Linked DNA regions of Homo sapiens. The protein of the gene in region 2 purifies or fractionates together with the protein of the main gene of each other region. This does not show direct contact. Each region holds a gene or a part of one and is shown on either strand. Other genes may lie near its edges.

Region 1 (3,500 bases), on a different chromosome or scaffold from region 2:
CCATTAGATTATTTTGAAGCAAAACTGAGATAATTTTAACAGCATACTTTTCAGTACATTTCACTAAAAGATGTAGACTCTTAAAAAAAAATCTTTACACCAAAAAAAAAAAATCACAATAATTTCTTAACATCAGATAGTCAATATTGTCACTGATTATTTCCAAACTAAGTTGGTTTGTTCAAATCAGGATCCAAATGCAGTTCATAAATGTGTTCAGTTGATCTCAAGTGTTTTAATCTACAGTTGACCTTTAAACATGAATTTGAGTTGTGTGGGTCCACTTATACATCGATTTTTTTTCAACCAAACACTGACAGAAAATATATTATTCACAGGATGCAGAAAACTGCAAATACGACTTTTCATATATGTGGCTTCTGCAAGGCTGACTGTAGGAATTCAGTATGTGTGGATTTGGGTATACATGGGTGGTCCTGGAACCAGTCCCACATCTATACTGAAGAATGACAGTATATGTTCCCTCTCCTTCCTCCTGCTTGTGCTCTATCTGATGCAATAAAGTTACTTGTATAGTTTTCTGTACCCACATTGTGTTGACTGCATCTCCATGAATCATTTAACATGTTCTTCTGCCTTCTGTTCTTGTAAATCACATGTCAGATCCAGTGGTTTGATAAGATTTGGGTTTTTAATTTTTGGCAACAATGCTTCATAGGTCATATGTACTTCTATTAGGAGGCACAAGATAGCCAACTGTCTTTTCCTGGAATGTTACCAGTGATTGCTCATTGTGGTCTAGATTGCTTATTAGAGACCGTAAAATAGTGATACTATAATTCACCCATTCCTTCTTCATTTTTTAGGTACAAAAGTTCTATAAAGAAAAACTTTCCAGCAGGTATGTTGGCTCTTGCCTGCAATACCAGCACTCTGGGAGGCCAAAGTGGGAGGAATGCTCGAGCCCATGTGTTGGAGACCAGCCTGTGCAACAAAGGGAGATCTCATCTCTACAAAAAATTAAAAATTATCCAGGCATGACGGTGCGAGCCTGTAGTCCCAAGCTACTCAGGAGGGTGAGACAGGAGGAGTGCTTGAGCCCACGAGTTCCAAGCAGCAGAGGGCCAAGTGCCACTGCCTTTCAGCCCAGGCAAGAGTGAGACCCTGTCTCTAAAAACAAACAAACAAACAAATGACAAACTTTCCTTCATCAATGATTTGGTTATGCTGAAATACATTCCATACATGAAAGGCTGGTTAAAGAATTGATTATTTACCAGTTTTCAAGCTAATGAGCTGGTCCTGACCCTGAGACCTTTAGACAGAAGCCTGATGGTCTGTGACCATCAGGTAATCTTTGTAATTTTATTTTTGGTAATCTTGGTAATTTTTGGTAAAATTGTGTACATTTTCCAGTCCCAGATCTGGAATCAATAATTTCTCCATGAAGCACTGGTTCACTATAGTGGGAAACAGTATTTAGAAATCATAATCTGGGTGCGGGGGGTATTGCTACTGGATTAGTGACCATATATAACTTTTTAGGGAAAAATAACTGAACATAAGTATCTCAACAATCAACAACTGACTTTTATCAGCCTCTGATTTGGTCTTTTATGCAGAGGCAACAATATTCTAAATTTGTGCATTTAAATTTTTACTTCAGGATGGGAGTGGTAGGAGGTTTGAGTGTCTTTATTTTTAGAAAATTCTAATTGATGAGCACTACTGGATTAAATGTGCTAAGAAATACATATCAGGAGGCATAATAATTACAAAAATTGTACATTTGAGAGAAGTGTTGACTGTTTTTCTTTTTTGGAGGTATGTCACAATTATGATGAAGATGGAAATCACAACCAAAAAAATATTTACAGGAAAGGAAACTTATTTCTCACCACTTTATAATAAAAGCTGTGCAATATTATCACATGTCAACACAAGCTACATTGACATTTTGGCTGGGCACGGTTGCTCATGCCTGTAATCCCAGCAATTTGGGGGGCCGAGGTGGGCGGATCACTTGGTCAGGAGTTTGATACCAGCCTGACCAACATGGTGAAACCCTGTCTCTACTAAAAATATAAAAACTTGCTGGGCATGGTGGCGCGTGCCTGTAATCCCAGCTAGTTGGGAGGCTGAGGTAGGAGAATTGCTTGAACCCGGGATGCAGAGGTGGCAGTGAGCTGAGATCACACCACTGCACTCCAGCCTGGGTGACAGAGTGAGTCTGTCTCAAAAATAAATACATAAATAAATACATACATAAATAAATAAATTTCAATGAAAAAGCTTGTCATTTTAATTACTCAAGCATCAAACAAGCATCCAATAAGCTAATCAGGTAGCAGTACTACAAATCCTGCTTTTAACAAAACTTTGTCTCTATTGTCAAAACAGTCCTTTGATAACAGGGCAACTCTACATGATTAATCATGTAGAAATGAAATCTTACCAGTTTTAAATTTATATCTCCAATATAAATGGCCTTTACGTTTATTGTTCCTATAAAATTTTAGGCTCATGAAGCAGAAATTCATTGTCTTTTGATTTGTACATATCATTCCCAGCCTCACACACGTACATGTTATAGCCCATAAAATACACATTTAAATTCCTTACTCCAATAATGGGAAGCTGGTTTTAACCAAATGAGCAGGCTTCATTTGGTAGGTAAAACCAAGCTGACTTTTCAATAAAGTAGCACTGAAAAAGAAAAATCTTATTTCCAATCAGCTGTTTATTTAGACTATAAGGGCTCAATTTAAAATTGCAATTTCATTTTCTAAAGTCACAAGCAAAGACAAGTACAGAAGGTACCCCCCGCCTCCCCACCCCGCCACTCTCCATTCTTGCTTAAGACAAACACATTGGCAGTCAGATTACCTACGATAGCATGTATTTACTGGAAAAAAGGAACAAGACCAATAGAAGCCTCTTAATCAGTAAGAAACAAGAAAAAACAAAAACACTCTAAAGCCATGTACACATACCCTCTGTTTGTCAAATACTTAGCGGCAGCACTATTCCTAGCGATACTTCCTGCAGGTGATATATGATCTGTTGTGACAGAGTCTCCCAAATATAATAAGACATGGGCATTTTCAATAGCCTGGAGTGCAATTGGCTCTTTGGTCTAGAAGGTAAAAGTTCAAGGCATTTAACTCTTTACAAGACTTCTTAGTTTATAACAATCTTTAAAAGATCAAATAGTAAAACAGTACTTACAAGTTTATCAAAAAATGAAGGGCATCTGATATAAGTAGACTTTAAGTCCCATGGAAACAAAACTGAATCCGGTGCTTCTAAGGAATTCCACCGTTTATTCCCCATCTGTGAATACAGTTTTCGTTGATGAACCAAAGCAAAGATAAAAGGACTCAGAAAAAGAGGCGCATGAAAATGATCAAGGGAATAAAATAGTACTTAGGTCACAACAACAACAACAAAAATAGGCCTTATCCATTTGGAAAGAAAATTAAGAGTGTATTCTTTTCTTTTTTTTAAAAAATTTTAAATTTTTATTTTTGCCCAGGCTG
Region 2 (3,500 bases):
TGACCTCAGGTGATCTGCCCGCCTCAGCCTCCCGAAGTGCTGGGATTACAGGCGTGAGCCACCGCGCCAGGCCTTATGCTTTTAAATAGGGAAAAACATCTTACCCATTTGAATGGAGATTTCTCCAATTGCCCATGTGGCATTGTTGCAGACTGAAATGAATTCTGGATTTAGGTTGGTTCCCAATATTGGCATGAAATCAGCTAGAAAAAAAATTTAAACTATGTAGTAAACTTTTCAATAGCAGTATATTGTACTTTAAAGGAAATCTACTAGGTGGAAACAGAAATCTAAGCAAGAAATAACAAGTTTCACCATTAAAAAAATTACTGCAACATCAATTTTAAAATTGGTGGAAATAAACTAGGCAACTGTATTTAAAAATATTTTTTAAAGGAGTTGGTAATGTTTATCTTAAGAAACTGAAGAAAACAGTATCTGGCCAATGAACTTTCAAATAATGTGGAACAGGAAATACAAGTTTGGGTATATTTTACATACCACTAAAAAGAGTTGGTCAGAGTAATCTCTTGTAATTAGACTAAAAAAAAAAAATCAATGATTTTGGCTTTTAAAGCAATTTTCACTCTTGTGCTCTGATTGTGGTCTCTGAATAACATTTTCCACTAAAAAAAAATGGACTCTCAGAAAACGTCACATTACAGGCAAAGGCAGGAAATGTGCAAAATAAGTGGACTATCTTGTCATAATGAAAGGACTCGGGAGCCAACTTAAGTTCTCACTGCAAGCAGTACAACAGCTTGAACATCATGAAGTCACACTAGCACTAAAAACAATCAAACAAAAACAAAACTCTGAAACATCAAAGATACCTTTGGAGGATGATAGGAATCAATTCATTATTTTGAAAATTGGTAAATAAAAAAAAGAATCAAGTATTTATCTTGCCTCTGCTATATGATTTTACCTCAGGATAGTAATTTATTGATATGGGAAATGTCTCCCTATATAAGTATCTTCATTATTAAATGAAGAATTAGAATATCATAATTTTTTAAACTCCTAATAAATCAGGAGATGTAAGCCAGGGTTTCTTGATCTCAGCAATATTGACAGTTTGGGCCAGATCATTTTTTTGTTGGGGGGAAGGGGAGCTGTCTCCTGTATTATAAGATGTTTAGCAACATCCTTTGCTTCTACCCACTAGACATCAATGGCACCTCTCCAGCATCAAACAAAATGTCTCCAGACACTGGCAAATGTTCCCCGAATGGCAAAATTGCCCCTAGTTGAGAACCACTAATTGAGACAATCATCAAGATTGGTAACATTAAAAAAAAAAAAAGGAGGGACAACTAGACACTATGTACACTAAGTACACAATACCATCTATAAAGTCTTAAAAACAAAACAACGTAAATCTCATTAAACCTCAGTCTCTGTATCCAAACAATTTACAGTAAATACAACGGACAGAGGAACATGTTAAAGACAACAAAGATGCAATCAGTAAAATCCACAGTAAAGGAAACTCTTTAGAATAAAAAACATGGTTTCTTTAACAAAAAACAATTGTAAGAAGAGATAGTATAGTATGTACTAAAATATTAAGACTTCAAATGCTGTGTTTGAGATTTGCTCCAAAATATCTGAGATCTATGTGTCTCACCACTGACAACAGTATATAGGAAACAGGACTGGACAGTTGAAGCTGGGTGATAGGAGGTTTGTTACATTTTTTCTACTTTTGTACGTCTTAAACACTTTATAATAAAAAAATTAAATCCTTTCATATAAGTTTCAACTAAAAAACTAAATTAGGTGGTAAATATGAGAATGATAAGCTTCCCATAAGAATTCATTACACTGTTAGGTTTAAACTTGATGGTTCTTAATATATCATAATTAATGTTAATTATGTTAGTTTTTTGAGAAATGGTTATCCAAAAGCACAATTATATCAGATGACAAAACATTCAATTAATATTTTAAATTAAGGTTTAAATGAAGTATTAAAATAATTTTTTTTGAGACGGAGTCTTGCTCTGTTGCCCAGGCTGGAGTGTAGTGGTACAGTATCAGCTCACTGCAGACTCTGCCTCCCGGGTTCAAGCGATTTTCCTGCCTCAGTTTCCCAAGTAGCTAGAACTACAGGCACAAGCCACCACGCCTGGCTAAGTTTTTGTATTTTTAGTAGAAGCGGGGTTTCACCGTGTTAGCCAGGATGGTCTTGATCTCCTGACTTCGTGACCTGCCCGCCTTGGCCTTCCAAAGTGCTGGCATTACAGGTCTGAGCCGCCGTGCCCGGCTGTATTAAAATAATTGTTACCCAACATGCTGAGATGCAGAAAAGGGGGAAAAAAATCCCATAACTCATTTATAACCCATAGGTTTAAGAACAATTCCGGGTACAACATTCAAGGAATTTCTTATCATTGTCACAGAAGGCCAAGACAAATGCTATGCTAGTCTCGAATCTCGCACTCCTGACCTCAAGTGATCTGCCTGCCTTGGCTTCCCAAAGTGCTGGCATTACAGGTGTGAGCCCCCAGGCCCAGTCTCAGTTAAAGTGACATTTGTTGGAAGTTTTCTGCAATATCTGAAAAAGTATGCTGGTTTGCTAGAGAAGAAAACCTGATTATTACTATTTCTGTGTACCTCTACCAAAAAGGTGGCTACTCAAAAAAGAATCTATTAACTAGTCCATGGTACCAAGGCTTCCCTGGTGGGCATGTCCTTTACTCTAAAGTATATTACTAAGCTTTCCTCCAGTCACAGGAGTACCTAAAAAGCTGAGATGATGGCAAGCTCAAGGAAATATTAGGGGTTCCTGCCATCTTGCCTGTTTCAATCACAGCAAGTTTACTTTAACCAATAAAGTGTACATTTATAAATGTTGGGATTCCATGCAATTTCAGTTTAATAATAAAAAAACAAAGCTGATGTAAATGTTAACTTTAAAAAACCATATTCATAGCAGTAGAAAATATTCATACCTATACAAGGCTTAACATGCTGAAAGCAAGCTTTTGTGAGGTCACCTAACAGGGCAAAAGAACTCTGTCGAACTTCTGGCATTTTATCCTACAAGAAATAAGAAGAAATTAACCCCAATGTGACACAGAGAAACAGGCTTCAATTCATTTTCACCTTTCAAGTCTCACCTGCATGCACTGATACATTAGTGTCAGGATGTTACTTCGGGCTACCAGCTGTTCAATGTTGCCTCCAAGTCCTTCAGCCAGGCCACTCAGTAAATCAAGAGCCACTATCATAAAATCTTTATCTGGAGCTTCATATTGATCTGGTTGAGCATTGTTTAGCTGAAATTAGACACAATGTTTTTTGTAAGTTTGGTTTTAATTAACTACTTAAAAAGTCTGTATACATTATACCTATCTTTAGAAAAATGTCCACCATGTCAAGAAGAGGAAGACATTTTAAAAAAATTACCATGGCTTGTGCAAGAGTCTTCTGTACTAGGTTTACACAACGCTGATACACAGGTTCACAGTACGGAAGGAATCCAGACTGCAGTG
Region 3 (3,500 bases), on a different chromosome or scaffold from region 2:
TGATGTTTAAGGTGGGACAGTTTGAAGAGGCACCACAGGTTTGGTTACCTGGTGGAGAGATGTCTTTTATTTTTGTCTGAATGGGAATGGTTTGTATATCAGCAATGACATCTGCTCTACCCTCTAATGGAGGGTGATGGCTCTGATGGGCATCTCTGCCTGTTGCTAAAGGCATCTCTTTGTTTAAATGCAGTAGAGAGTCAGTTGGCAAATTTGCATGTTCTTGAGAATTAAGGGACACTTGTTGATTTAAAACACATTCACTTTCTACTTTGTTTACAACCAGTTCATTGGTACAAGAAAGTTCATTCATCTCACAGGCTATGCTCTGTTCATCTAAAAGTGGAATATCATCATGTGAGGTCTGTATAACTTTTTCTGACTCAGGTCTGTAATCAAATTCTGGGGATGGTAGCAACAGAGCAGTACCTTGCTTGGGTTTTAATACCTCACTTACAGGACTTATTTGATCCTCTGGCATTAAACTCACAATGGATTTTCTTTCAAACAGAAAATCATTACATGATGCTTCATTTAACTGGGTGTTGCCTTCCAGATTTCTCTGGATGCTGACTAAGGAGTTACAGTCTTTAGTGTAAAAAGATTTACTTAATATATTGGGCTCTACAGGGGTTGTCTGTCCTGCCTCTTCAATCTGCATCAAGGAGGAAAAACTGCTTTCTTCAGAGTGTCCACCAGGATGGCTCATATTAGTAAAAGTTTCTTTATGGTCCTCAGGGTTTGTCAAGTTACCTTGAACGTGTACAGTAATTTTCAAATCATTTTTATTTAACATTACTTCTGTGGCTTCAGTAAAAGAATTGGGCATTAAAGAACTAGAGTTCCCTGTATGGAGACTGTCTTGAATGCAGTTATTGTGGATATTTTCCTTTGGAGAAACAACAGGCTCTTTTTCACCAGAACAACGACCACTAATCTCCTTTTCTGGTTCCCTGGCATTAAAAAGAAAAGGTCCACCTCTTTCACTCCTAGGAATCAAAAGCCGTTCCTCATTTTCTTCTCTAGAAGCCAAGTTCTTCCCTTGATCATCCCCCCTATAAAAATAAGAACTGTCTGTCTTTTCAGCAGATCTCTTTAGCAAACCACCACCTTCAAAACCACAGTTTTCTAAGGATATTGTTCTGGATTCTGGACCAGACAAGTCTGATGTGAAACATGAAACTTCAGAATTTTCTTTCAAAGGGCTTGTGGCTGTGGGACTATCATGTGTAGAACTGGGTTGTTCATTATGGTGGCCATGAAGCTGTTGGTGATTGTCATCTGCTTCACAGACCAGGTTTGGTTTACACAACTCTTCCTTCCCATTGTCCACATTAGAAATGGCACTGTTTCCTGGTAATGACAACCAAGGACAACTTTTTAATTCTTCACATTCTTTTTCTTTAGGAGTTGCTTCTGTTAATACAGGGTCCACAAAGGTTAAAGGTTCTGGGGTAACTAATGTGCTGGTTTCTGAAACCTCATCACTGGTCATGATTTTGTCTACTTCTTGGAATTCACCGCATCCAGCTGAGAGATCTTTACTCACATTGCCATTTTTGTGTCCTTCATTATTATCCGTCTTAGTCCCATTGACCTTCATACCTTGTACTTCGGCGGATTTTAGCAGAGTTTCAGCTGTAATCTGTACATTTCCTTCTGAATAAGAGAAATAAATCCAAATTAATATGCAGTAATAAAAAATCACTTGGTCTACCTTCATGCATTTTATTATGCTATGCTACCAAGGGCAACAGAAGACCCAACTCAAAAAGAAAACTGGAAAGTTAGCATGCTATACCATTGATTTTGTTCTTCTCTGAAAATATAACAGAGGGCCAAAACTATATCTGGCAGAAACGTAATTTTCAACAAATGCCTCTTGCTGAAAGTTTAATACAGAGTTCACAGATCAATGCTGGACAACTGAATACAACATAGAAATATGTTCCTATGTTGTATTCTCATTCAGTCTTAAGAGGCTTTCATTTTAAAACATTAATAAAGCAGACTCACAATAACAGCTTATTTTACTAGATGACCATGTTCTCAGTACTTGAAATTAGATGTCATCGATAAAATTAGTCCTTGGAAAAAAACAACTATACCTAAAACTTTATTTATTTATTTACCTATTTATTTTTTTCAGACAGAGTCTTGCTCTGTTGCCCATGCTGGAGTACAGTAGTGCGATCTCAGTTCACTGCAACCTCCACCTCTCAGCTCAAGCAATTTTCCCGCCTCAGCCTCCTGAGTAGCTGGGATTCTAGGTGCCTGCAACCACCCCCAGCTAATTTTTTTTTTTTTTTTTTGAGATGGAGTCTTGCTCTTGTCGCCCAGGCTGGAGTGCAGTGGCACGATATTGGCTCACTGCAACCTCCACTTCCTGGGTTCAAGCAATTCTCCTGCTTCAGCCTCCTGAGTAGCTGGGATTACAGGCACCCGCCACCATGCCCGCCTAATTTTTGTAGTTTTAGTAGAGACGGAGTTTCACCATGTTGGCCAGGCTGGTCTCGAACTCCTGACCTCAGGTGACCCGCCTGCCTCGGCCTCCCAAAGTGCTGAGACTACAGGCATAAGCCACCACGCCCGGCCCGCCCAGCTAATTTTTTGGGGGGGTTTTTGTTTTTGTTTTTGTTTTGAGACAGAGTCTTGCTTTGTCGCCCAGGCTGGAGTGCAGTGGCGCAATCTCGGCTCACTGCAACCTCCGCCTCCCGGGTTCATGCCATTCTCCTGCCTCAGCCTCCCGAGTAGCTGGGACTACAGACGCCCACCACCACACCTGGCTAATTTCTTTTTGTATTTTTAGTACAGACAGGGTTTCACCATGTTAGGATGGTCTTGATCTCCTGACCTCATGATCCGCCCACCTTGGCCTTCCAAAGTGCTGGGATTACAGGCGTGAGCCACCACGCCCGGCCTGCCCAGCTAATTTTTTTGTATTTTTACTAGAGACGGGGTTTCACCATGTTGGCCAGGCTGGTCTCAAACTCTCGACCTCAGGTGATCTCCTATTAGTTCTGTTCCCCTAAGAGAACCCTGACTAGCACACTATACACATGAACATGGGTATATGTACACATGATTTTATATATATATATAAAAAACAGGACAACTGTATTAAACAGAAAAAGCAAAATGCAAATCTATTTAAAGATCGGCCAGGCATGGTGGCTCATGCCTGTAATCCCAGCATTTTGGGAGGCCGAGGTGGATGGATCACACGAGGTCAGGAGTTCAAGACTAGCCTGGCCAACATGACAAAAACCCATCTCTACCGAAAATACAAAAATTAGCTGGGCATGGTGGCACATGCCTGTAATCCCAGCTACTGGGGAGGCTGAAGCAGGGGAATCGCTTGAATCCAGGAGGCGGAGGTTGCAGTGAGCCAAGATCATGCCACTACACTCTAGCCTGGGTGACAGAGCAAGACTCTGTCTCAAAAAACAAAGAACAAAACAAAACAAAACAAAACAATCTAATTCCTGAGTTTGATGCAG
Region 4 (3,500 bases), on a different chromosome or scaffold from region 2:
AGGTATCACAATCCCAAGTGCCTATCACTGGTTTAAATTTGTCTCCAAAGCCTGTCCCTGATGCAGAAAGAGTTGTTTTGCCACTTTTATTTGGTGTTTCAATTCCAGTCTGTTTAGCAGTATCTCTGGGTGACAATTTTGCTGCTTGACAGGCTATGCATTTGTTGTCTGTAACTTTGTTCTGGAGTAGACATGTATCACACTGCCATGATGACCCAGCTTTTAAACTCTCCCCAAACCCAATTCCACTAGAAGAAAAGCTACTTATTGCTGGTCTTGTATAAACTACTGGGCTTGTTGCGGTGGGCTGAGCAGCAACAGAATCTATCTTCGGCGATGCGAAACCTACAATGAACGAAGGAGAGAGTGCAACGTTAGAGAAGCTTTATAAATCAAAGCATTAATTTGATTATTATTACTGAGAAGACGTTTACCTCACTGCACACTTACTACAATCCAAGATGAACTACTTAAGAATTGTTTTTCACTTAAGTAATCATATTTATCAATTACCTAATAAGTTACACTTAAACCATTTAAAATTCTACAAAAGATGTTTTGTTTACAGGATATCACCTTCTCCTTCAAGGAATTTCTAGTTTGATGCTTTCAATGGTACTAATTTACTGATATGTATTATTGCCATCCACATTTTGCTATATTCTGTCTCTCTACAAACACACAATACTCGCAGTCCTCTTTCTCCTTCATCCATTTCTTCTTTTAAGTGTTCCATTGGCTACACCAAATGGCTTCAATGTCATCTTTGAATTTTGTCCAGTCATAACCTACTGCTGTGGTATTCTCTACCTTCAGTAAAATCAGCTGAGCAAGTCCTTCTGTTACCAAAACTGCTGTCATTGAGTTCATTCACTCAAGCTGTATTTTACTCATGAGAATGACTTTTGTAATTGTTTACTTAGGACCAGTTAACTTTTGTCTTACACACAACACCACCATCTGTGATCTGTTTCTCCAGCCTTACCCGCCAAAGAAAAAGAAATTAAAAGGAGAGAAGATGTAGAAGGTTATTAGAGGTTTTCTAGTTCCACAAAATAATCCAGCCTAGAGCTATTTTTAGCTTAAGGACAAAATACCACATGCTTGAGTTATTCCCAGTGGGCAACGTGTTATTTTGCTTATGATTAATTTAAATCACTAAGATTGGCAAGATATTAACAGTAACCATCTCAAGGCATTACAGATTTCTTTTTCTTCTACTTTTTCAGATTTTCCTAATTTCAGTCAAATGAAGATTCTCCCCAAACATTTCCTATTTAAGAAGTAAAAAGGGAGCAGGGGGAGGTTGGCATCATGAATGCAAAGTGTAACCCCAGATACACAAGACAGACTATACACATTTGAGGCTTGCCTACTACTTGGTTAATTCCAGCACAAGCACTCTGGAGTTCTACCATAACTGCATGGAACTGTCCAAGCTACTGGACTCCTGTAGGCAGTATACTTATCTATAAAATGAGAGAGCTGGACCAGAAAAATTGAATCCTCCTAAATCCTGTTGTAAAAGCCAACCTTATTTTTTAAGAAAACCTATCTTATTACACATGGACACATCTGGTGGGTACGTTTAAATTCTTTCTGAGCTATTAGATTATCTCACAGTTTTACATTCTTTTATTCTTTTTTTCTTTTCCTTTCTTTTTTTTTTAAAGACAGAGTCTTGCTCTGTCGCCCAGGCTGGAGTGCAGTGGTTCGATCTCGGTTCACTGCAACCTCCACCTCCCAGGTTCAAGCAATTCTCCTGCCTCAGCCTCCCGAGTAGCTGGAACTACAGGTGCATGCCAGGACGCCCAGCTAATTTTTTCTCTTTTTAATAGAGATGGGGTTTCGCCATGTTGGCCAGGCTGGTCTTCAACTCCTGGCCTCAAGTGATCTGCCCGTCTTGGCCTCCCAAAGTGCTGGGATTACAAGGGTGAGCCACCGCGCCTGGCAAGTTTTACATTCTTATACTATGTATCATAAATGGAATTATGAACATCCTGTTTTCAAACAAAAAATTATTCTTATCTGAGAACTATTTATCCCCTTTCTAATTATTACCTACTAGCTTTCAAATCTTGCTTCAATTCAAGTGAGTACTGCTCCCTATGTATATGTTACAATTCAGCAGATGCTTTCCACTTGGCCTTGTTCCATATTTACCAAACTGGGGAATAATTCAAGAAGGCAGTTCAGTGCTCTCATAAGAGAAAGACATGTCTATGTGTATCATCAGGTTTACTTACTCTTATTCCTCACTGACCTACCTCTATTAATGGAGAATCCATTTCCTCCTCCTACACTTGCCTATTAGAAATTTCATTTTAGTATAGAGTCCTTTGGCTTGTAAGATATTTCCAGCAAAAGAATTACACCTAACTACATCTCTATTCAAAAGTAAATCTCCTACCAAACTAGTCAGAAATTTTTAAAAGCCTAAAGTATAATACAAAATGACATTAAATTGAGATCATGAGTTTGTAATCAAAAGGCTTATCTTTTAATTATCTTACCAGGGCTTTTCAGAATATCTAGAACACTTCCTTCTTTCAGGATTTCTGCAGGTCTAAAAGGACCCTCACAATCTTCAGGTGGTGTCTTCTTACAATTTGTACTGTTCACTGTAGTGACATGATGAGCTGTAATTTTTTTAAATTTAATAACATTATGCCAAATAAAACACTGGACTCTCAAATGCATTTTTAAAAATCTTTCAAAACCATCTTTTGGATTAATTTCTAAAAGTTCATGAAAAAAGTCACTTTAATTCAATAAACAAATGACTTTACAGGGATAATTTGCCATTACAAGGAGATAAAAACACTATTCCCATACTATATAACTTCCCCCACCAATAAAAAGGCAAAAAAATATAAACTATAATTATCGTCCAATTAACTGACTGATAATCAAAACAATCAAACTAAAAAACTGGAGAGGATATGGCAACTAGGGCAAGCCCATCCACTGCATGAAATATCTGATTACACAACAATTTACAAAACTAATCAAAAAAAGTAATTTTCAACTGAGCAATTATTTCATTTTTAGAAATTCACACTATTAATATAATTGAAAATATCCTTCAGTTATAATATTGAAAACCTATATGGTAAAATATTAAATAAGGGTATATGGTTACATAAATTACATAACAGTGACATGATGAAATACTTATGCAGCCACAGAAATCATTCTTTTTCAAAACAGAGAGTGAGTGTCTTGTTGTCAGCAAGGCCGGAGTACAGTGGTGCAATCATAGCTTAATGCATCCTCAAACTCCTGGGCTTAAGCAATCCTCCCACCTTAGCCTCTCAAGTAGCCAGGAACACAGGCGCATGCCACCACATCTAGCTCATTTTTTTTTTTACTTTTTTGTAGACATGGGGTCTCACTATGGCTGGCCAGACTGGTCTTAAACTCCTGGCCTCAGGTGATCCTCCCACATCGGCCTCCCAAAGCACTGGCATTACTGGCATGAGTCATCATGCCTGGCCCAC
Region 5 (3,500 bases), on a different chromosome or scaffold from region 2:
GATAATCTGACATCTCTCATCATCCTGTTTGATAATCTGACAACTCTCTAAGCAGCAGAGTACTTTCAACCATACCTGCCATTTCATTTCTGTTTCCTTTCACAGAAAGACGTTTAGCCCCATTCCTTCCTTATTTGAACTTCCTCCCCTTAACCAATTACATTAGCCTATACTGACTCAGCATTTAGGCTGCCTACCTTCCTTCCCTCTTGCCCTCTACTCAGCAATGATACTTCTTACAGCCAAAAACTCTCTACCTTAATCAAAACTTCTTGTCCCCAAGCAATTCAAGAAAGCAACCCAAGTCCAGATAGTTTCCCCACTGGGTTACCATGACTGTTCTAAGTGGTTCAGGAACCAGTAACCATAAGTCAAGTGTTCCCACTGGCTCTTGCAGTTGGAATCTCCCCCACATTTTAATTGAATAAATTAGAAAGAAAATCAGAAAAAGCATTCCAGTGAGGCAGATTGATTTCTCTCCCACACCTTCTACTTTCTTGCCAGTGGCGCAGGCAAGCTCCTTTTCTCACCAGCAAGAAAATCCCTTACCCAGCACACATTTGAAGCCACTCTGGGTTCAGCACTGAGACCCTCAATCAGACACTGTAGCAGGGGAGCCAAGTAGACATCATTGATGGCAGCTTCAGGAAGCAGCTCACAAATTCTGCCTACAGTCCATGCAGCTGTATCTCGAACAACTACACTGGGGTCTTTCATTAATTCTATTAGGGTGGGCATAGCCTGAAAATATAACAGTTATTAGCAAAGCAAAACAAAGATTAAAATTCATGTTAACTACTACCCCAGAGAAAGAAATACTGATGGATGGCTTAACTCAAAAAAGTCACCAAGATACTTCTGTAATTTTACAGGACATGGTGTGAAACATCTTTCAAAATATTTGAAAATATCTTTCAAAACTCCAGTTTAGAGTTTTATATTAAGAATTTGGTGTAAATGCTTTTAGTAGTCTGCAATAAATTACTCAGATAGAGGCCGGGCATGATGATGGCTCATGCCTGTAATCCCAGCACTCTGGGAGGCTGAGGCAGGCAGATCACTTGAGGTCAGGAGTTGCTTGAGGTCAGGAGTTCAAGACCAGCCTGACCAACATGATGAAACCCGGTCTCTCTACTAAGAATACAAAAATTAGCTGGGCATGGTGGCACATAGTCCCACCTACTCAGGGGGCTGAGGCACGAGAATTGCTTAAGCTGGGGAGCTGGAGGTTGCAGTGAGCCTAGATTGCACCACTGCACTTCAGCACTCCAGCATGGGTGACAGAGTAAGACTCCATCCCCCCGCCTCCCTACCTCAAAAAAAAAAAGAATTACTCAGATACTCAGAATTCTCAGGATGCAGCTATGATGGCATCTGGCTATATCCAGAAAGACTGAAGACTGAATTCTTTAAGCACTAAACTCAACTATAACAAACTCTTTTTTTTTTTTTTGAGATAGAGTTTCGCTCGTTGCCCAGGCTGGAGTGCAATGGCACGACTTGTAATAGCAAAACAAGCACAACATTTCCATAAGAACATTTTCATTACATAAAGGACATTTTGTCCAAAGAATAGAATAATAATGCCATTATTAAAAATTATGGGGAATCAGTGCTAGGTGCAAAAAAAAATTATTGGGAAATGTTTACAACATAGTATTAAATGAAGAAACAAGTTATAAAACAATCTGCACAGGAAGAGCCTGTTGCACACACATGCACATAGGAAAAAGCTTCAAGGATAAATACAGAGTTAAGAGTGGTATTTCTGGGCAATGAAATTAAAGATGACTTTTCTCTTTTGGCTTCTTTCACATGTCTCTGGATCATGCTGACTTATGTAATTAAAAACCTAAGAAATATATTTTACCCTCATTAAAAGTAAACAAGTATCTAGAGATAATCTTTGTAGATGACAATTTACAGTTTTGTTTTGAAAAATAAAGATATGCTTTAAGTTTAAACAATAAATATCCTACTTTCTACTCCAAAAATCCCTCAGTTTCACCTGTATAACTAGTGGTTTGAGCTGACTGGGCTCTGGTCCTTCCAAGATACAACCAAAAGCCATCACTGCTGCATCCCGGTACCGCCAATCTGGGTTCTTGATGTGTTCTTTAATGAAGGGGAGGACATGTGGGACAATGTCATCTTCACAGCAGGTGGCCAGAAGCATGAGGCACACCCCTGCTGCTTTGCAGGGGTTCCAGTCATCGTCATCATCATTTTCGTCCTGGTGAAAGAATATGGCACTAGTTAAGATTTTGTCCAAAGAATCATTTTAACTCTAAAGGTCCTCTGACTACTCTTGAATGTCTTTAGAACTTAAACTCCAGGGAAATAAAATATAAGACCTTTATATTTTGTCTCTTCCACAAACATTCATCACAGCATAGCCTTTGTTAAACAAGATTCAGATGGAAGAAGATTCCATTTAGTACTACACAACAAGAATGAAAAAATTTCAACTACATCCAAAAAGAATGAATTCCAAACATTTAGAACAAAATACAGAACTAGAATGTATGCTGTATGATTCCAGTTATGTAAAGTCCAAAATCGGCCAGGCGCGGTGGCTCATGCCTGTAATCCCAGCACTTTGGGAGGCTAAGGTGGGTGGATCACCTGAGGTCAGGAGTTTGAGACCAGCCTGGTCAACATGGTGAAACCCCATCTCTACTAAAAATACAAAAATTAGCTGGGTGTGGTGGCACGTGCCTGTAGTCCCAGCTACTCAGGAGGCCAAGGCAGGAGAATTGCTTGAACCTGGAAGGCGGAGGTTGCAGTGAGCCGAGATTGTGCCACTGTGCTCCAGCCTGTGTAACAGAGTGAGACTCTGTCAGAAAAAAAAAAAAACATAGTATTAAAAATAATAATAAATAAAGTCCAAAATCAACAAAAATTAACCTATGGAATAAAAGACCAGGAAAGTAAGGGAGTTTCATGACTGGGAAGAAGACATGATTCAATCAAAAGTTCAAAAAAGAGGCAAGGTGCAGTGCAGTGGCTCATGCCTGTAATCCCAGCACTTTAGGAGGCCAAGGCAGGCAGATCACTTGAGGTCAGGACTTCGAGACCAGCCTGGTAAACATGGTGAAACCTCGTTTCTACTAAAAATACAAAGACTAGCTGGGTATAGTGGCACACACCTGTTAATCCCAGCTACTCGGGAGGCTGAGGCAAGAGAATCACATGAACCAGGGAGATGAAGGTTGTAGTGAGCCAAGACCGCCCCACTGCACTCCAGCCTGGGTGATAGAGCAAGACTCTGTACCCCCCAACGCCACCCCAAAAAACCAAAAACCAAAACCACAAAAGTTCAAAAAAGAAAAGATTCCACTAATATCTCCTCTTAAGTTAGAATCCAAGGTATAGCTTCCTAATTGTGGCCATTCACACCACATAGTAAACTTAAGGCAGGTTGCCTATGCAGTTTCAGAAAATCACACAAAGAATAATTTGTTCTCAAATAGGAAAAGCACAATAAAAATATAAGAAAG
Region 6 (3,500 bases), on a different chromosome or scaffold from region 2:
TATGTCAGCCAACTATTTATTTGAGGAGGAAGACTTGCATAAATTAAATAATGCATTTGATCTTTCTTCCAGCTATTCAAATAAGGGTACATTTCCCAGCTTCTCAGTTTCTCCCTTTTGCTTATTTTGAAGCAAGGCCTTTATAAGGCCTGATAAACAAAAACTCCTGGTGAAAATAAGCAAAAGGGCAGGTAGAGTAAGTGAATATAAATTCCTCTTCAATTAATCAAATTTTTACTATAACTAAGTTTTTCAAATGACTGGAATTTTAGGAGAAAAAGACAAAGAAGGGAAGGACATAGCAGAAGCGAAGGAAAATAAGAGAAATAGAAGGAGTAAAAATGGGAGAAACAAAAATGAAGACAGAATCCTACAAAGAGAGATAGATTAAAAAAGCTAGAAGTGAGAAAGAGGCAGAGTTTACCACATGGTAGCGTCTCGATAAACGTATGTTAAAAAATGATAGTGTTTCATTAGAGATCAAAACTTGCAATTCATTTAAGGCAGAAGATTTCAAAGCAAACAAGCACACACACATTATAGCCTGCCTTTCAAATTAGTATTTTAATTAGGCACGGCTTAGTTGTTCGAATGCCCTTATCCTTAAATCTCTAGAGAAGAAATTATTCTTGGGGCTAGAGTAGCTACAGGCCAGATGGTATCAAGTTAAAAACCATGAGTGAAGACTGTAACTTTTCCTCCCTATTAAAATCCATCTATAGTTATAAATGCTAGACCAAAAGAACTGATACTGATGAAGCACTATGTGGTTTGAATTACAAAGCTTAAAATGTGTTTACTGTGAAATACTAAGGAAAACAAATGGACTAATACTTCTAAGAAAGATTTGCAATAACAGTTATTCTTTGCTTAGCTCAAAAAGAATAAGGAAAGTAAATAAGCATAAATGTCTTATTTCCTAAATATTTTAAGGATTTTCTGTAGTTTTCCTGCATTCAAATGTTTCAGGCCATACAAGAGGAAAAAAATAGGTGAGAGCAACAGCAATAATTTTAAATTTGGACCTCTCAGTCTAAAATAATGCTGCAATAGCCCTTTACCCTTTTAAAACAACATTTATCACACTTGTAATTATTCTATTCAGTTGTGTGTCTTCATGAGATTTTGGTTTTATGAAAACAGTATAGCATAATAGGTTCACAGATGGCTCTGCCACTTACTAGCTGTGTGATCTTGAGAAAGTACCTTATTATTCAACTGTGCCTCAGTCTACCCATTGAAACATAGGGCTAATAAGAGTACCTCCTCAGGTTAGTGTGATGAGTAAATAAGCTAATATGGAAGACACTTAGTGTATATAACAGGTACTCAAAAAACATTTGTTAAATAGTTGCTGGATGAGTTGAGTGTGTTGTTTTTTTGGGGAAAAGAAAAAAAAAAGACTGCCTCTCACATAAGACAAACTGAAACAGCAGACAGGATCCTGGGATACAGTACAGAACCATCTCCTGCCCAAGCAGTTGTCAACTGCTTTCCTCAAGTATTTTCTTTTTAAAAAAAAAATCAGACCTTTTCCAACCATGACGTTAGAGAATTCAGGAAAGCAGAAGAATGGGCTGAACATGGCCCATGTCTGGAAGCACCAAAACATTTATGTTCAGGAAAATTGGAGAGAAAAACAATTTCATAATGGGTATTAAGTTAATTAAATTTCATCTAGGCCTGAAATACATGAAAACAGAACAAAAACCCTCCCACTTTTTAGGTTTTTTTTTTTTTTCCCAGCTCTTTTACTTGGACATCTTAAAATTATTCACAATTAAGTTTTTCTCATATAAGTCTTTGGAGGGTAACATCGTTTTCATTTAAAAATGGGAAATGGAAGCAGAAGAAAACTAGATGATAAAGTTCTCAGTTCTTCACTGTGATTAACAGCTAAGCAGTGGCTAAAAGCTTGCATTTTTGGTGTTAGATTCCAAATCTACCACTAAATTTTCTTATCAGTAAAATGGGGAAAAGAACAGTATTTATTTCACTCAGTTGTTGTGGAGATAAAACGAGAAAATATGTAAAGGGCTTGACACTTAGGAAGTATTCAACAAGCAGTAGCCATTATTATTACCACAACTTTAAGATCACTATTGATAAGTTTAGAGGAAGAAACTTTTTATGAAGTGAATTACCTTTTGGGATCTGGGCACTATGGAGAAAATATCAACTAACAATCTGCTTGGGGACTCTATCTCTGGAGGAGAAACAGACTACACTTGGGGCAGTAAGTCAGAGTTCTAAATGTTCTTGGACCATCCTTCATACAAATCTCTTAAGTGATGGTAGGGTGATCTCAACCTAAATCTTTTAATTATAAATTCCACTCTCATTTCACTATATTCTACTACCTTACCATAGTGCTCACTTTAACTGGACCACAAGTTCAGTATAGTTTTCATTGTCTGAGACTTTAGGACTTTATTGGTTGTATCTTCAAGGATAATCTTCTGAAATGTGAGGCCAAATGCTTGGAGTTCAAGTTTCTTTAGTAGTCCCAGCAGACAGAGAAAGATTAAAAAAGAATGTAGCAACAAGTGTGTGTCAATAGAAAATTATTTTAATTGAAATGATCTATTTTAATTATCAACAAGTGTGTGTCAATAGAAAATTATCTATTGACACACACTTCCTTCTTTCTACTAACCATGACCTCTAAACTTCTCTTTCCATGCTTTAATAAATAAAAGGAGATTTCTTATTAAGGACAATATATTATCTTGGCAATTATAATCCTTTTATTGATAATATAAACCCAGACAAATAGTCTATCTGTAATAATATATAATAAACATAATGGCCATGCCCTAAAATCAACAGCTTAAGTTATAACAAACTTAATAAAATAAATGGTAAACAGAAAAACTGCTCCACCAACATAAGGCTAAGGCAAACACTTAACAATGTTATTTACTCCAGGGGGATTTTTATCTCCCTGCCTGCTTCCTTTTTCTTTGAACAAATGTTTTTGTATACCTACTATGTACTTGATACTGGGCTACTACAGTGAAGAAGGACACAATCTCTATTTTCAAAAGTGTGGTCTAAAGGCCAGGCTTGGTAGCTCATGCCTGTTGTCCCAGCACTCTGGGAGGGTAAAGTGGGATCGCTTGAGTCCAGGAGTTCGAGACCAGCCTGGGCAACATAGTGAGACCCTGAGTTAAAAAAAAAAAAAAAATTAGCTGGGTGTGGTGGTGCATACCTGTAGTCCCAGCTACTCGAGGGGCTGAGGTGGGAGGATCACTTGAGGCTACAGTGAGCTATGACTGCACCATTGCACTCCAGCCTGGGCAACAGAGCAAGACCCGGTCTCAAAAAGAAAAAGTGTAGTTTAATTATGGGAGGGGAGGGGACAGATGAGTCAAACTGATAAATATGTTATGTAATAAACATTATGATAGAGATATGCACAGGATACCAGGCAGACGCAGGGAAAGGGTATTCACTTTTTTTGTAGTTACAATAGTTTTCAGGAAATTGCTTTTCCATGC
Region 7 (3,500 bases), on a different chromosome or scaffold from region 2:
TTTCATACTTGCAAATATTCAGGTACAGAAAGGGAGAGGAACTTTTTGACTCAATAAGGCTCTCTTTGTTTATTTATTTTTTGAGACAGAGTCTCACTCTGTTGCCCAGGCCGGAGTGCAGTGGCACCATCTTGGCTCACTGCAACCTCCGCCTCCTGGGTTCAAGCAATTCTCTTGCCTCAGCCTCCCAAGTAGCTGGGACTACAGGCACATGCCACCATGCCCGGCTAATTTTTGTATTTTTAGTAGAGATTGGGGTTTTGCCATGTTGGCCAGGTTTGTCTCAAACTCCTGGCCTTAAGTGATCTGGCCGCCTTGGCCTCCCAAAGTGCTGGGATTAGAGGTGTGAGCCACTGCACCTGGTCTATTTATTTAGTTTTTTGAGACAGGGTCTCACTCTGTTACCCAGGCTGTGGAGCGCAGAGGTGTGATTACTGCTCACTGCAGCCTTGCTCACCTGAGCCTGGGTTCAGGTGATCTTCCCACCTCAGCCTCTTGGACAGCTGGGACTACAGGCATGCACCACCATACCTGGCTAATGTTTTGTATTTTTTGTAGAGTCAGGGTCTTGCCATGTTGCCCAGGCTGGTCTCAAGCCCCTGGGCTCAAGCACTTCTCTCACCTCAGACTCCCAAAGTGCTAGGATTACAGACATGAGTCACTGTGCCTGGCCAAGGCTCTCTTTAAGTGGTCACTAAATGGCATTTGTAACCAAAAGTAATGTGTGTGGTGGTTTTTTTCTTTCCGGAAGATTTTGTCTACTGGAACAAAAGCGTGTTTTAACTGTAGTAATAACTATAGTGTTTTAACATCCATTTGAAATTGGTAAGGCATAGAATTTGTGTGGTTTGCTAAAAAACTACTTTCAAGAATATGTATTTGTGAAACTATTATCCTTATTCTTCTCTACCACCCCACCTAACTAATCCGAGAGTAATTGAGTATAGTTCGAATGACCTGGTGACAGTAGACGTGGTATAGAGGTATAATTTGAATATGCTTTAGCCTGTACTGTGAGTTAGCATCTTTTCTCTTTCTCTAATATTTGTATAAAACAGCCATTTTCTGAAGAATCTGTATTCATTGCTCTAAACTTCCACCAAAATTTTTGGAGATGTACAGCCATGGTTGTTTTATGTGATAGATAGATATCACTGATAACTTCAAAGTGTTCTGAAAGAGAGTATTTTGAGGCAGATCTTAAAGGAATCTTAGTAGCCTGTCCTGTATATTTAGTAGTTTCATTTGTCCACCCCTACTAACCAAAATTAGTAGAAGTTGTAGAGAGCTATTGAAGGAAAGACCATCTCTTCATAGGGCCAATTACTTAAGCGACTCAGTTATAAGTTTTTAATTTAAGTTGTAAGTAGGAGATAACTTTTACAGAGACAATCTTTGGGTTAGATATTACCTCAAAAGTTTTATAGTTCAGTATGGAAACTGAATAGGCATGCTTCAGCATGGGTGTATGCAGCTTTTTGATGGAAAGCATCAAAAGCACAAAGCAGATGAAGTAAAGTCATGCTTTGATAGACTAAGTTGGCATTGTCATGTTTGGTTTATCACATGTCCATAGGAATTTTCTTCTTAGATATCATATCAGAAAGGTCTTGGGTTGATATGGTTTGGCTATGTCCCCACCCACATCTCACCTTGTAATAATACCCCCCGATTTGTGGCAAGGTGGGGCCAGGTAGAGGTAATTGAATCATGATGGGGGGTTCCCTCATACTGTTCTTGTGGTAGTGAATAAGTCTCACAAGTTCTGATGGTTTTATAAATGTGAGTTCCCCTCCACAAGCTCTCTCTTGCCTGCCGCCATGTAAGACGTCGCTTTGCTCTTCCTTCGTCTTCCGCCATAATTGTGAAGCCTCCCCAGCTATGTGAAACTGAGTCAGTTAAACCCCTTTCCTTTATAAATTACCCAGGCTTGGGTATGTCTTTATTAGCAGTGTGAGAACACATTAATACATGGGTCATGGAATATCAGCTTCAAACTTCTTTGCTAGTACTTTTCCTTTTTGGAATTTATTGATTCTTTAGCCTGGTTATAAAACCTAGGGTTTTTGGCTTTTCTCTGGTCATTACTGATTTATCTTGAAAGTTTAGGCATTTTTTGTGTGTGCTTATGCTTGCACCTTCCAGTCAAAACATGCTTTTGAAAGGAAAGCCTTCTAGAAAATAGAAAATATTCCTATACAACTTCAGTAGATGAGTTCAGTCTAGGAATACTCTGTGCCTTGCACTGATAGAAACTGGGAGTATGTAAATAATGAAAACCAAAGATCTTTCTCCCAGAGAGTGTACCAATGTAGCTGTGTCATCCAGTGTAGTAGCCACCAGTCTAGTGTGACTATTTAAACTTAAAATTAAGTAAAAGTTAAAATCAGTTTCTTTTTTTTTTTTTTTTTTTTTTGAGACGGAGTCTCACTCTGTCACTCAGGCTGGAGTGCAGTGGTGCAATCTTGGCTCACTGCAACCTCCACCTCCCGGGTTCAAGCAATTCTGCCTCAGGCTCCCGAGTAACTGGGATTACAGGTGCATGCCACCATGCCTGGCTAATTTTTTGTATTGTTAGTGGAGATGGGGTTTCACTGTGTTAGCCAGAATGGTCTCAATCTCCTGATCTCGTGATCCACCCACCTCAGCCTCCCAGAGTGCTGGGATTACAGGCATGAGCCACTGCGCCCGGCCTAAAATCAGTTTCTTATTTGCACTTACCCACATTCCAAGTACTGTACGGTACAAATATAGAACATTTCATGTCTTTGAAGTATTGGAGTCTATGTTTGTGATTTTGTGACAGTATTTCTGTTGCCATGGTAGTCTGTTATGTGGTGGCATTTCTCCATATTTTGATTAGTTTCTTGTCTTGCCAGGCCTTGGGCCAAAGTTGATAGTTTGATTTAGGATGTAAAATTATCAGGGTACTACTATATTTTCTAATTACAATAGTTTTTCCAAAGTTTTTCAGATATTTCTTCAGCATTCTTTTACAGTGATTGATTGCACTGATGTTTATGGAGGAAATGGAAAGTAGGTTTTATAGATTTTTTTTTTTTTGTGGCAAAACATTCAAAACATAAATTTAGCATTTTAACGTTTTTTTTTTTTCTGAGACAGGGTCTTGTTCTGTTGCCCAGGTTGGAGTGCAGTGGTGCGATCATAGCTCACTGCAGCCTTAAACTCCCAGGCTCAAGCTATCTTGCCTCCTCAGCCTCCCAAGTAGCTGGGATTACAGGCATGAGCTACCGTGCCCAGTCATTTTAACCATTTTTAAGTGTGCAGTTCAGTGGTATTACATACATTGACATTGTTGTGCAACCATCACCATCATCCATCTTCAAAACTTTTTCATCTTGTAAAACTAAATCTATGCCCACTAAACAAAATAGGTGCCCATTTGCTCCCCGCCCCAATCCCTGGCAACCACCATTCTACTTTCTGTCTCTATGAATGTGACTATTCTTGGTACCTCATGTAAGTGGAATCATACAGTA

The links.
Region 1: the proteins of TNPO1 (region 2) and IREB2 fractionate together in Homo sapiens (co-fractionation; one large-scale study listed by BioGRID). This does not show direct contact.
Region 3: the proteins of TNPO1 (region 2) and PRR14L purify together in Homo sapiens (affinity purification with mass spectrometry; one large-scale study listed by BioGRID and IntAct). This does not show direct contact.
Region 4: the proteins of TNPO1 (region 2) and NUP153 purify together in Homo sapiens (co-immunoprecipitation; 3 studies listed by BioGRID and IntAct, with this or other methods). This does not show direct contact.
Region 5: the proteins of TNPO1 (region 2) and KPNB1 purify together in Homo sapiens (affinity purification with mass spectrometry; 2 studies listed by BioGRID and IntAct, with this or other methods). This does not show direct contact.
Region 6: the proteins of TNPO1 (region 2) and STOM purify together in Homo sapiens (affinity purification with mass spectrometry; one large-scale study listed by BioGRID and IntAct). This does not show direct contact.
Region 7: the proteins of TNPO1 (region 2) and TNPO3 fractionate together in Homo sapiens (co-fractionation; 2 studies listed by BioGRID). This does not show direct contact.

Annotation. Positions count from the first base shown.
Region 1 is NC_000015.10:78,490,216-78,493,715, reverse strand, and holds part of IREB2 (iron-responsive element-binding protein 2), read right to left. Parts: intron 3,295-3,500; coding exon 3,190-3,294; intron 3,098-3,189; coding exon 2,955-3,097; intron 1-2,954. UniProt on the Homo sapiens protein: RNA-binding protein that binds to iron-responsive elements (IRES), which are stem-loop structures found in the 5'-UTR of ferritin, and delta aminolevulinic acid synthase mRNAs, and in the 3'-UTR of transferrin receptor mRNA.
Region 2 is NC_000005.10:72,893,161-72,896,660, reverse strand, and holds part of TNPO1 (transportin-1), read right to left. Parts: coding exon 3,415-3,500; intron 3,285-3,414; coding exon 3,126-3,284; intron 3,046-3,125; coding exon 2,958-3,045; intron 204-2,957; coding exon 105-203; intron 1-104. UniProt on the Homo sapiens protein: Functions in nuclear protein import as nuclear transport receptor. Serves as receptor for nuclear localization signals (NLS) in cargo substrates.
Region 3 is NC_000022.11:31,715,633-31,719,132, forward strand, and holds part of PRR14L (protein PRR14L), read right to left. Parts: intron 1,660-3,500; coding exon 1-1,659.
Region 4 is NC_000006.12:17,637,426-17,640,925, forward strand, and holds part of NUP153 (nuclear pore complex protein Nup153), read right to left. Parts: intron 2,640-3,500; coding exon 2,514-2,639; intron 346-2,513; coding exon 1-345. UniProt on the Homo sapiens protein: Component of the nuclear pore complex (NPC), a complex required for the trafficking across the nuclear envelope. Functions as a scaffolding element in the nuclear phase of the NPC essential for normal nucleocytoplasmic transport of proteins and mRNAs.
Region 5 is NC_000017.11:47,666,919-47,670,418, reverse strand, and holds part of KPNB1 (importin subunit beta-1), read right to left. Parts: intron 2,234-3,500; coding exon 2,009-2,233; intron 742-2,008; coding exon 550-741; intron 1-549.
Region 6 is NC_000009.12:121,363,751-121,367,250, forward strand, and holds part of STOM (stomatin), read right to left. Parts: intron 2,496-3,500; exon of another isoform or gene 2,366-2,495; intron 1-2,365. UniProt on the Homo sapiens protein: Regulates ion channel activity and transmembrane ion transport. Regulates ASIC2 and ASIC3 channel activity.
Region 7 is NC_000007.14:129,045,112-129,048,611, reverse strand, and holds part of TNPO3 (transportin-3), read left to right. Parts: intron 1-3,500. UniProt on the Homo sapiens protein: Importin, which transports target proteins into the nucleus. Specifically mediates the nuclear import of splicing factor serine/arginine (SR) proteins, such as RBM4, SFRS1 and SFRS2, by recognizing phosphorylated SR domains.